2 separate regions of the Homo sapiens genome follow, and region 1 is linked to region 2. Evidence: fine-mapped expression QTL. Tissue or cell type: lymphoblastoid cells. Region 2 holds a variant in brackets; the other region holds the start of a gene. All regions are shown on one strand. Distances are from middle to middle.

Evidence for each region.
Region 1: it holds the start of GATC, and the variant in region 2 is fine-mapped to the expression of GATC in lymphoblastoid cells (GTEx, PIP above 0.99).

The regions. Positions count from the first base shown.
Region 1 is chr12:120,444,195-120,449,557 of GRCh38, reverse strand. It overlaps GATC (glutamyl-tRNA amidotransferase subunit C), which reads right to left and starts at 3,114. Exons shown (of 4, transcript NM_176818.3): 1 at 2,997-3,114; 2 at 2,729-2,901. The coding sequence starts at 3,077. TRIAP1 (TP53 regulated inhibitor of apoptosis 1) reads left to right here and starts at 3,174. Exons shown (of 2, transcript NM_016399.3): 1 at 3,174-3,332; 2 at 4,603-5,363. The coding sequence starts at 3,186. The coding sequence ends at 4,686. RefSeq lists enhancers at 2,299-3,144, 2,978-3,272, 2,870-3,419, 2,634-3,833, 3,145-3,992.
Region 2 is chr12:120,466,373-120,471,740 of GRCh38, reverse strand. It overlaps SRSF9 (serine and arginine rich splicing factor 9), which reads left to right and starts at 1,993. Exons shown (of 4, transcript NM_003769.3): 1 at 1,993-2,319. The coding sequence starts at 2,132. It also overlaps a transcript of DYNLL1 not described here. RefSeq lists silencers at 2,035-2,334, 2,585-2,754. The variant C/T (reference allele first, on the strand shown) is at 2,634.

The DNA of each region.
Region 1 (5,363 bases), 22 kb after region 2:
GAGAATCTCAAACCCAGGAGGCAGAGGTTGCAGTGAGCCGAGATCACGCCACTGCCTCCAGCGTGGGCAACAGAGTGAGACTCCATCTCAAAAAAACAAAACAAAACAAAACAAAACACATTTACTGAATACTCAGTGCCAACCACTGAGAACATGATAAGGAAAAACAGACATGCTGTGGAAGGTGGGTGAGCAGGAGAGGGGCAGAGACTCAACACATCCCTTAAATAGATGTATAAACGCATGTATAAATCAGCCCTTTTGGATATCACGAGAGCCACAGGTAGAGAACCTAAGTATAGCCAGGCACAGTGGCTCACGCCTGTAATCAGCACCTTTGGGAGGCTGAGGTGGGCAGATCACGAGGTCAGGAGATCGAGACCATCTTGGCTACGGTGAAACCTCATCTCTACTAAAAATACAAAAAATTAGCCAGGCGTGGTAGTGGGCACTTGTAGACCCAGCTACTTGGGAGGCTGAGGCAGGAGAATGGCATGAACCCAGGAGGCGGAACTTGCAGTGAGCCAAGATCACGCCACTGCACTCCAGCCTCAGCGACAGAGCGAGACTCTTGTCTCAATTAAAAAAAAAAAAAAAGAACCTAAGTATAAAAGAATGAAGACTTGTGGCTCACGCCTATAATCCCAGCACTTTGGGAGGCCGAGGCGGGTGGACTGTGAGGTCATGAGTTCGAGACCAGCCTGGCCAACATGGTGAAACCCCGTCTCTATTAAAAATACAAAAATTAGCTGGGCGTGGTGGCGGGCGCCTGTAGTCCCAGCTACTCGGGAGGCTGAGGCAAGAGAATCACTTGAAACCGGAAGGTGGAGGTTGCAGTGAGCTGAGATTGCACCACTGTACTCCAGCCTGGGTGGAAGAGTGAAACTCCGTCTCAAAAAAAAAAAAAAAAAAAAAGGAATGGACTTTTTTGGCCAGTGCAGTGACTCATACCTGTAATCCCAGCACTTTGGGAGGCGAAGATGGGCGGATCACTTGAGGCCAGGGGTTCGAGACCAGCCTGGTCAACATGGTGAAACCCTGTCTCTACTAAAAATGCAAAAACTAGCTGAGTGTGGTGGCGGGTGCCTGTAATCCCAGCTACTCCGGAGGCTGAGGCACAAAAATCACTTGAACCTGGAGGGTGGAGGTTGCAGTGAGCCAAGATCATGCCACTGCACTCCAGCCTGGGTGATGGGGCAGGACTCCACCTCAAAAAAAAAAAAAAACTTTCTTGAGGAAGTGGGAGGCTGAGGCAGGAGGATTGCTTGAGACCAGGAGTTTGAGACCATATGGGGCAACATGGCAAGACCCCGTTTCTACAAAAATTTTAAGTATTAGCCAGGTGTGGTGGTGCACACCTATAGTCCCAGCTATTTGGGAGGCTGAGGCAGGAGGATCTCTTGAGTCTAGAAGTTTGCGACCAGCCTGGGCAACATAGTGAGACCCCGTCCCAAAGGAAAAAGAAAATTGCAAAGTAGAGAAGACATTTGAAAGAATCAAACACGGCCAGGTGCTGTGGCTCATGCCTGTAATCCCAGTACTTTAGGAGGCTGAGATGGGTGGATCACCTTTGCTCAGGAGTCCAGACAAGCCTGGGGAACATGGCAAAATCCCGTCTCTATCAAAAATACAAAAAATTAGCCAGGCCAAGTGGCACGCGCCTGTGGTCCTGTACTTGGGAGGCTGAGATGGGAGGCTCTCTTGAGTCTGGGAGGTGGACATTACAATGAGCTGAGATCATGCCACTGCACTCTAACCTGGGTGATAGAGTGAGACTCCATCTCAAAAACAAATAAAATAAAAATTCAAGGCAGGAATAAAACAGTAACTACATAATGAGCTCACATTTTAATAAAAGAGATATAACAAATGAACAAAAGTCCATTAAAATGTTAGGGAAAAAACCCAATAGGATGAGTTACTAACTAGAAGGGGAGAAGGGATTTGGAGTGGTTAGGAGAGCCCTTTCTGAGAAGATAAGCTGAGACCTGTGCCAAGAGGGAGGCAGCCATGCAAATACTGAGAGGAAGGAAAAAAACGAAGGGCCAGTGCAGAGATCTAGAGAGGAAAAGAACTTGTCTTGCTGGAGAAGCAGTCAAGGTAGCCAAGGAGAGTACTGAGAAGAGTACGTTGGAGTGAGTAGGTAGGGACTCTATGGAGTAGGGCCTTAAAGGCGATGATTAGGCCAGGCGCGGTGGCTCACACCTGTAATCCCAGCACTTTGGGAGGCCGAGGCGGGTGGATCACGGTCAGGAGTTCAAGACCAACCTGGCCAAGATGGTGAAACCACGTCTCTACTAAAAATACAAAAAAAATAAGCCGGGCCTGGTGGCAGTCGCCTGTAATCCCAGCTACTCGGGAGGCTGAGGCAGAGAATTGCTTGAACACGGGAGGCGGAGGTTGCAGTGAGCCGAGATCGAGCCACTGCACTCCAGCCTAGGCAACACAGCGAGACTCCGTCTCAAAAAAAAAAAAACAAAACAAACAAACAAAAAAAAAAACAAAGGCAGTGATTAGCAGTTCGGGTTTTGTTTCCACTTACACTAGCGAGAGCATCAGTAATGAACAAGGGGAAGAGTGAAGCCACTGACTCGCGAGGTGACTGTGGGCAAGTTCCTGAATCTTGCTAACACTCTTTAACCCCCTGGAAAACTGTTCGCTAATCGTCACATTAAACGGCTGCGAACGGGCCACGGTCAAGGCTTCGGGGCTGCAGCCGCGAGTTTACCTGTCCTCCAGGACCGATTCCATGGGCTCCACCCCGTCTGTGTCCACGGCGCGTAGCCGGTCGGCGAAGGCGATAGCTTTCTCCAGTCGCGCCACTGCCTCGCGGCTGCCGAAGTCCACAAGCGCTAGACGCTCCAGGTGCTCGATCACCGCAGCCGTGATCCGGCCACTGCCCTGGAGGAGGGATGAGGCGGGGAGTGTGGGTCACCGGCGCTCCGAAGTGCCTCCCGGCTTGCTCCGCCACCCGCCTAGATGGCCCTGGCCTTTACCTGAGGATCCGCCTTGGAGGTGAAGCCCTGGCGCCCGCCCAGAGGGGCCCGAAGGCCCAGCCACACCAACCGCGACCACATTTCTTCCTTCCTTGGCCCCCGCAGTGCGCCCGCGCGTAACGCCGAGCGACGCGCCTGAGAGTGATGACATCAGAGTGCGCCGTCGTCGCCGCCGCCACCACTGTCGCCATGAACAGTGTGGGGGAGGCATGCACGGACATGAAGCGCGAGTACGACCAGTGCTTCAATCGCTGGTTCGCCGAGAAATTTCTCAAGGGGGACAGCTCCGGGGACCCGTGCACCGACCTCTTCAAGCGCTACCAGCAGTGTGTTCAGGTGAGCCCTCCCGCCTCTGTTCCCAGGCCCTGCATTCTCGGCGCTGTGTCCCACCACACTCATCGTATTTTACGGGGATTGGGACTGGACTGGAAGGGTGGAGAAAAGTCGCAGTGAGGCCAGTGGCAGGAGCTCGCTCCCCTACCATCACCACCGAGGCCACTTGGGTGTCTCTCCGAATGACAAATATTGGGGCAGTGCTTTTCAAGAAGCACAGTCACATCCTTTGGTTCATTTGGTGTTCACCCTAAACTCGCAAGGTGGGCATAGTTACTCATATTTTATACATAAAAAACTAACACCCAGAAATAGGAAGTGATTAATCCGAGTTCACTAGCATCAGGTTTCCTTGGTTCTTTCGCAGGTGGTGCACTTTTCCACTATTACTGCTGGGGTCTGGGCGGGATTATACTTCAGAATTCAGACTGGAGGGTCACATTTTTTTGTTGTTATAAACCCTTCGTTAGCCTGTTTCTCTCTCTTGACCAGTCCCCGCAACTGCAGCCAGGAAATGTTTATTCTGGCCCAATGGATGTGGAACTGCTTTGAATTGTTAAGAACAGCACCGGGCAAAGCACTTCCAATAAGTTAACCCAACACATCCTCACAGCAATTCCCCGAGGTAGTTGCTGTCTTCATCCCATTTACAGTTAGTCACATAGCCAGTAAGTCCTGGAACCCAGATTTGAACCTAAGTCTTTCACTAACACAAAGTGATGATTATTTTTCAAATTTCACTTAATTTTAACGGTTCCCTCACAACTCCTTTTCCAGTCTCCCTCAGGTCTTACACTTGATTTATTCATTATGGTACTTCTGGTTTTTATTTATTTTTGAGGCAGAGTCTCACTCTGTCTCCCAGCCTGGAGTGCAATGGCACAATCTCAGCTCACTGCAACCTCCGCCTCCCAGGTTCAAGCTATTCTCATGCCTCAGCCACCCGAGTAGCTGGGCTTACAGGCATGCGCCACCATGCCCAGCTAATTTTTGTATTTTTAGTATAAACAGGGTCTCGCCATGTTGGCCAGGTTGGTCTCTAACTTCTGGCCTCAAGTGATCCACCTGCCTTGGTCTCCCAAAATGCTGCGATTATAGGCGTGAGCCACCACACCTGACCGGTACTTGTTTTTTAAAAAGTATGTGGTTTGAATCATGGTTATAAGTCTTTATAATCAGCTTGATTTTACTTTTGTACTGTCATATTTTATTTACAAAGCTTGCAACTTAAGCTTCATGTAGGTCTTTATAATGTGTTTTCTCCTCCTACCAGAAAGCAATAAAGGAGAAAGAGATTCCTATTGAAGGACTGGAGTTCATGGGCCATGGCAAAGAAAAGCCTGAAAATTCTTCTTGACCTTGACAGTCACCTTGAAGGATTTCGCAAGTCCAGAAATTGAGGACTCTGGATTTTTGTCAACTAACTCTGTGAACATAGCCATCAGATTTGATGAGGAACTTAGGAGAGAGGAGTTTTATTTCCTCCTTCGATGTTTTCCTCTCAGTTGTAAAAGATGAACTCTTTGAGATGATTTCTCACCTGCTGTGGTATCTTGCAGGAACTGTGTGCTAAAATTGAACAATTTTTTTGAGATTATGGTTGCAATACTTGGCGTGGAATCAGCTTTACATAAATATACCTTGTATGCAAACGATGATAAACTAGTCAGGATGAGCAGAGCTGCCTGACCTCTTGATTTCTGCTGCAAAAGACATATACACTGTACTGGGGTCACTATTTATGAAAGCAATTGGTTAGGACCTCTTTTTTTCCTCTCAGGGAACTAATGCTCTGAAAAGGGATCTGGGCACAACAGTTTCAGTGAGTGCTTTTGAGCACACTTTTATTTTTATATAGTAACTAATGGTTAAGATTGATGGTGGCCTGGATTAGCAAAGAGGAAGACAGCTTTTAACACAGTTCCCTGCCTTCACAAGAGGTGTCAGATTAAGATGTGAAAGCTGCAAGAATGTTGCAGTGAACACCATTTCAGAGCTCTCAGTGTGCAGTTCAGGAATTAAGATACTTGGAAT
Region 2 (5,368 bases):
TACTCAGGAGGCTGAGGCGGGAGAATGGCATGAACCTGGGAGGCGGAGCTTGCAGTGAGCCGAGATCACGCCACTGCACTGCAGCCTGGGTGACAGTGTAAGACTCCGTCTCAAAACAAACAAACAAAAAATCCTACAAGCAGAATTACAAGATCGAAGGGTATATGTATATTATGAAAGCCTGATGTATACTATCAACTTGTATTCCAAAAAAGATATACACTCAGTAGTATATGTGGGTGTCTAGTCTTTGGTTTGTTTTGATTTTAAAATGCTCAGATGGTATAATGAGAAATCAACTACCTTCTGATTAAATGTGTGGTTTTAGTCCCTTTTTTTGTTTGTTTTTGTTTTGTCTTGTTTTTGAGACAGAGTCTCCCTCTGTCACCCAGGCTGGAGGAGTGCAGTGGCACAATCTCGGCTCACTGCAACCTCTGCCTCCCAGATTCAAGCGATTCTCGTGCCTCATCCTCCCAAGCAGCTGGGACTACAGGCGTGCCACCAAGCTTGGCTAATTTTTTTTTTTTTTTGTATTTTTAGTAGGGGGGCGGGTCTTGCCATGTTGGCCAGGCTGGTCTTGAACTCCTGGCCTCAAGTGATCCACCCACCTCAGCCTCCTAAAGTGCTGGGATTACAGGCATGAGCCACCACGCCCAGCCAGGTTTCATTTTTAATATGAAAAATCTTTATTTATTTTTGAGACAGTCTCACTCTGTCACCCAGGCTGAAGTGCAGTGGCATGATCTCGGCTCACTGCAACCTTCGCCTCCCGGGCTCAAGCAATTCTCCTGCCTCAGCCTCCCGCGTAACTGGGATTATAGGAACACGCCACCACGCCCAGCTAATTTTTGTATTTTTAGTAGAAACGGGGTTTCCCCATGTTGCCCAGGCTAGTCTCGAACTACTGACCTCAAGTGATCCTCCCGCCTTGGCCTCTCAAAGTGTTGGGATTACAGGCGTGAGCCACCGCACCCAGCCTGAACAATCTTTAGGTTAGGAGTATTCCAGCCGGGCGCCGGGCTCAAGCCGGTAATCCAACACTTTGGGAGGCCAAGGCTGGAGGATCGGTTGAGCCCAGGAGTTCGAGACCAGCCTCTCTACAAAAAAAATAGAAAATAAACTAGCTGGACGCAGCGCAGACCCCTCACGGCGCCCCGAGGTGGGAGGATCACCTGAGTCCAGCGAGATCGAGACTGCAGTGAGCCGTGTTCGCGCCATTGCACTCCAGCCTGAGCAACAGAATAAGACCCTGTATCAAAAACAAACAAAAAGTCTTCTGGTGCAAGGCCTCACTGTAAGGTCCCTGGGTTCAATGCTCCGCGTTCTGGGATGTGAATGTGGAAAAGTAAGTGCCAAGGTGGGTGTCTACCTGAGCTCCATAAGGACTCAGTACTTAGGATGGGAGCATGGCTCTGGGTTCCATTCCTGACCCCTCTGTGGCCTCAGACTCTGCCCGGGAGAGGATGAAAAGCACAAGTCGGATGCACTCTATAGTGATCGCTGTGATACTCATTAAGAGTCTTACTCCCTCGACTCCGACAAACTCAAGGCCAAGCTATGGAGTCCATCTCATGCTGACACCGTCAGTTCTGAGCAACTGTAAAATGGGGACAGGGTGGCCCGGGGGCCTACTGACCTGAGGTGGGGGCCGCGACAGCCCGGCCGCTGCGGGGTCAGCCTGCGGTCTCCGCCTGACTCCAGCTCTCCTGCGCCCCGCAGGCCCTGGGCGCTACCCACGTCAGTGAGTGCTCACAAGTCTGTGAGGTAGGCGGCGCCACAGAGAGAAACTGAGGCGCGGGAGCCCAAGCCACTTGTCCAGCGCCTCAGCCGAGCGCGAACCGCGCTCGGGGATGGCATCCACACGGCCCGGCCCCAGGCTCTCCCTGTCAGCGCCCGAAGGCCCTTCGCACCTCCAGGGGGCGCCGGCCTGCGCGCACGCGCAATGGTCGCAGCCGCGTTCTCTTTAAGAGGACTCCTTTTGCCTCCGCCGACCCCTTCGCTTCCGCTCCGCGTTCCCACAATGCAGTGCGGCTGAGCGCCTCGGAGCCCGCGGGGACGCTGCGGGGGGACCCGTGCTGAGGCGGCGGCGGCGACGTGGGCTGCGGCGGGCCCGCGGCGTCGGGCGGTGCGGATGTCGGGCTGGGCGGACGAGCGCGGCGGCGAGGGCGACGGGCGCATCTACGTGGGGAACCTTCCGACCGACGTGCGCGAGAAGGACTTGGAGGACCTGTTCTACAAGTACGGCCGCATCCGCGAGATCGAGCTCAAGAACCGGCACGGCCTCGTGCCCTTCGCCTTCGTGCGCTTCGAGGACCCCCGGTGAGGCCCCCGCGCCCCTGCCCTCTCCTCCTCGGTGCCTGAGGCCCCCGCCTTCCCTGCTGTCCCCTCCCCCAGGGCTCCCCTCCCCCCGGCCTCCCCTCCCCCCGCCTCCGCGCAGACCCCTCACGGCGCCCCCTCACGGGTGGAGGATGAGGCAGCCTCTCCTCGCAGGCCCGGGCCGTCCTTCGCGCCGTCGTCACTTCCTTTATTTTTATTATTCCAATATTTTACTTAGAAACCCAAAAGCTGAGCCTTTGGAGGGCCCAAGCCCGCCTGCACCGGCCTCGGGGGGTCCAAATGAGCCTTGTCCGCCT[C/T]CTGCCTGGGGCAGCACCGTAGGGGGAAGCGGCCGCGGGGCAGCGCGGGGGTCGCCGTTCGCCCTTCCCGCTCGCCTCTCCCCCGGCCCGTGCTCGCCGTGGCTGGAGAGCAAGCTGCAGGGTCGCGGATGCCGCTGGAGGTCGTGGAGGGATCTCTGGTGGAATAGCTCGCCGTTCGCGCGCCCCGCCCCGCAGGCCAGGGCCCGGGCTTTGTAAAGGGATCACGGATTCGGGAAAACTTCTAAAACAGCCGGAGTGGGGCTCTGATTTCACTTCCCTCCTTTGATGAGGGAGGCTTGGCGAGATGCTAAAGGTTCCAGGGATTTGGAAACTCTAGATTCCTAACCCCGCTCTAAGGAGTGCTTGTGATTTTGCAAACAGCGTCGGCCCTCAGGCCGGAAAAAGCCCAGGAACTTTCAAAACTGTGGTTGGTGGTGGTTAGCAGCTGCGGCGCTGACCTGGTCACTCCACTCCGGCCAAATAAGAGCCCGCACCCTGTTTTCCTAGCATCATTTGCTCCCGGGGAACGCGGAATGTTCGTAGGGTGTCCGACCTACCTGGGGTGGACGTATTGATAGGGCAAGGGGAGCATCTGAGGAAGGGCAGGCAGGAAGCACCGCGAGGCGTTGATGGCTGAAGAGTCGACTCTGACAGCTCATCCCTAGTATCTCCTCATTTGCCTCAAAACCGGAACTGGGCATTTTTACCCCTAAGCCGGAGAAGGCTATGCCTCGCTTATTTAGTAACCGTGCCATTGTGGTTTTTCAACAGTTGCTATGGGTCAAGTGCCATGGTGTGTATTTAGCTTTTTTTCTTTCCTTCTTATTTTTTTAGATTGATAAATTAGGGGTTTCACCATGTTGCTCAGGCTGGTCTGGAACTCCTGAGCTCAGGTGATTCTCCCGTCTCAGCGGATCAAATTGTTAGGATTACAGGCGTGAGCAACCCGCCCAGCCTGTATTTAGTATTTTTAACAATTTATGAGGTGTAGGTACTATTTTTTTTTTTTTTTTGAGACAGGTCTTCACTCTTGTTGCCCAGGCTGGAGTGCTGTGGTGCGATCCCGGCCCACCGCAACCTCCGCCACCTGAGTTCAAGCGATTCTCCCGCTTCAGCTTCCCAGTAGCTGGGATTACAGGCGCCCGCCATCATGCCTGGCTGATTTTTCTATGTTCAGCAGATACGGGGTTTCTCCATGTTGGCCAGGTTTGTCTTGAACTCCTAACCTCAAGTGATCCACCCACCTCAGCCTCCCAAAATGCTGAGGTTACAGGCCTGAGCCACCACGCCAGGCCGGGATCAATGGATTTGAACTCCCTCTTCTGTTTTTCGAATGCAAACTTACTATATGATACGCTACATTGTCATCTTCCCTCATTCCTTTCATAATAGAAAAACTATCTTTTGGTGTCACTAGATGTGAAGATTCAAGCAAAGCATTTCATGTAGTATCTTATTTAACCATTACAATAACCCTGTGAGATAGGCATACTGTTCACATTAGAGATGTAAAAACTTGATTAAACACTTACCCAGAGATGACTACTAGTAATTTGCAGAATAGTGATTTGAATGCAGGCTAATTTTATTTATTTATTGTATTTATTGAGATGGAGTCTGGCTCTGTCGTGCAGGCTGGAGTGTAGCGGCACAGTCTCAGCTCACTGCAACCTTCGCCTCCTGGGTTCAAGAGATTCTCGTGCCTCAGCCTCCTGAGTAGCTGGGATTACAGCTGCGCGATGCCATGCCCAGCTAATTTTTATCTTTTTAGTAGAGACGAGGGGTTTCACCAGGTTGCCCAGACTGGTCTCAAGCTGCTAACCTCAAGTGATCCACCTCCCAAAGTGCTGGGATTACAGGCATGTGCCACAGCGCCTGGCCTGAATGCTGGCCAGTTTTTATTCAGAGTTGTTCTGACCTCCTAGCAGTTCTGCCTCTCCCAGTCTGCATTTTACGTAGTCAAGGTTGCACTGGATATGGTCATTGTTGCTTTTAGTTCTAAAATCTTACAAGTGATTATGTGCCTGTGACACTGAACAATGCCTTCATTAGCACATTCAGCTCCTCTTGTCCACCCAAGCTCCAAGGTCACACTTTCTACCATCCAATACTGGAGAATCAACGTGGCATTCCTGACTCTCCTAGAGTCCTAGGAAAGACTTAAAGTAATTTTATTGAATATTTATCTCTTTTGGCAAAATTGTATCCAAAGAATGTTTTTTGACAAAAATAGTTCTCCAAACCATGCTGAAAAGGTACACTTAGAGTTCCAAGGCCAGGCGCAGTGGCTTATGCCTGTAATCCTAGCACTTTGGGAGACTGAGGGGAAGGATCGCCTGAGCCCAGGAGTTCAAGACCAGGCTGGCCAGCAGAGGGAGACCTGTCTCTACAAAAAATCCAAAAATTAGCTGGGTGCAGTGGTACACGCCTGTGGCCCTAGCTATTCAGGAGGCTGAGGTGGGAGGATTGCTTGCGCCCAAGAGTTAGAAGCTGCTGTGAGTTATGCTCCAGCCACTGCACTCAGCCTTGGTGACAGAGCAAGACCCCGTTTCAAAAAAAAAAAAAGTTCCACATTCATCACAAAACACTCATTTGCATTTTTCTTTTGTCCTTTGAGCCTTATTTATTTATTTTTTTAAAAGACCGGGTCTCACTATATTACCCAGGCTGGCCTGACCTGGGCTCAAACATCATGCCCAGCTACTTTATTTACCCTCAAATACTCTCCTATCTAA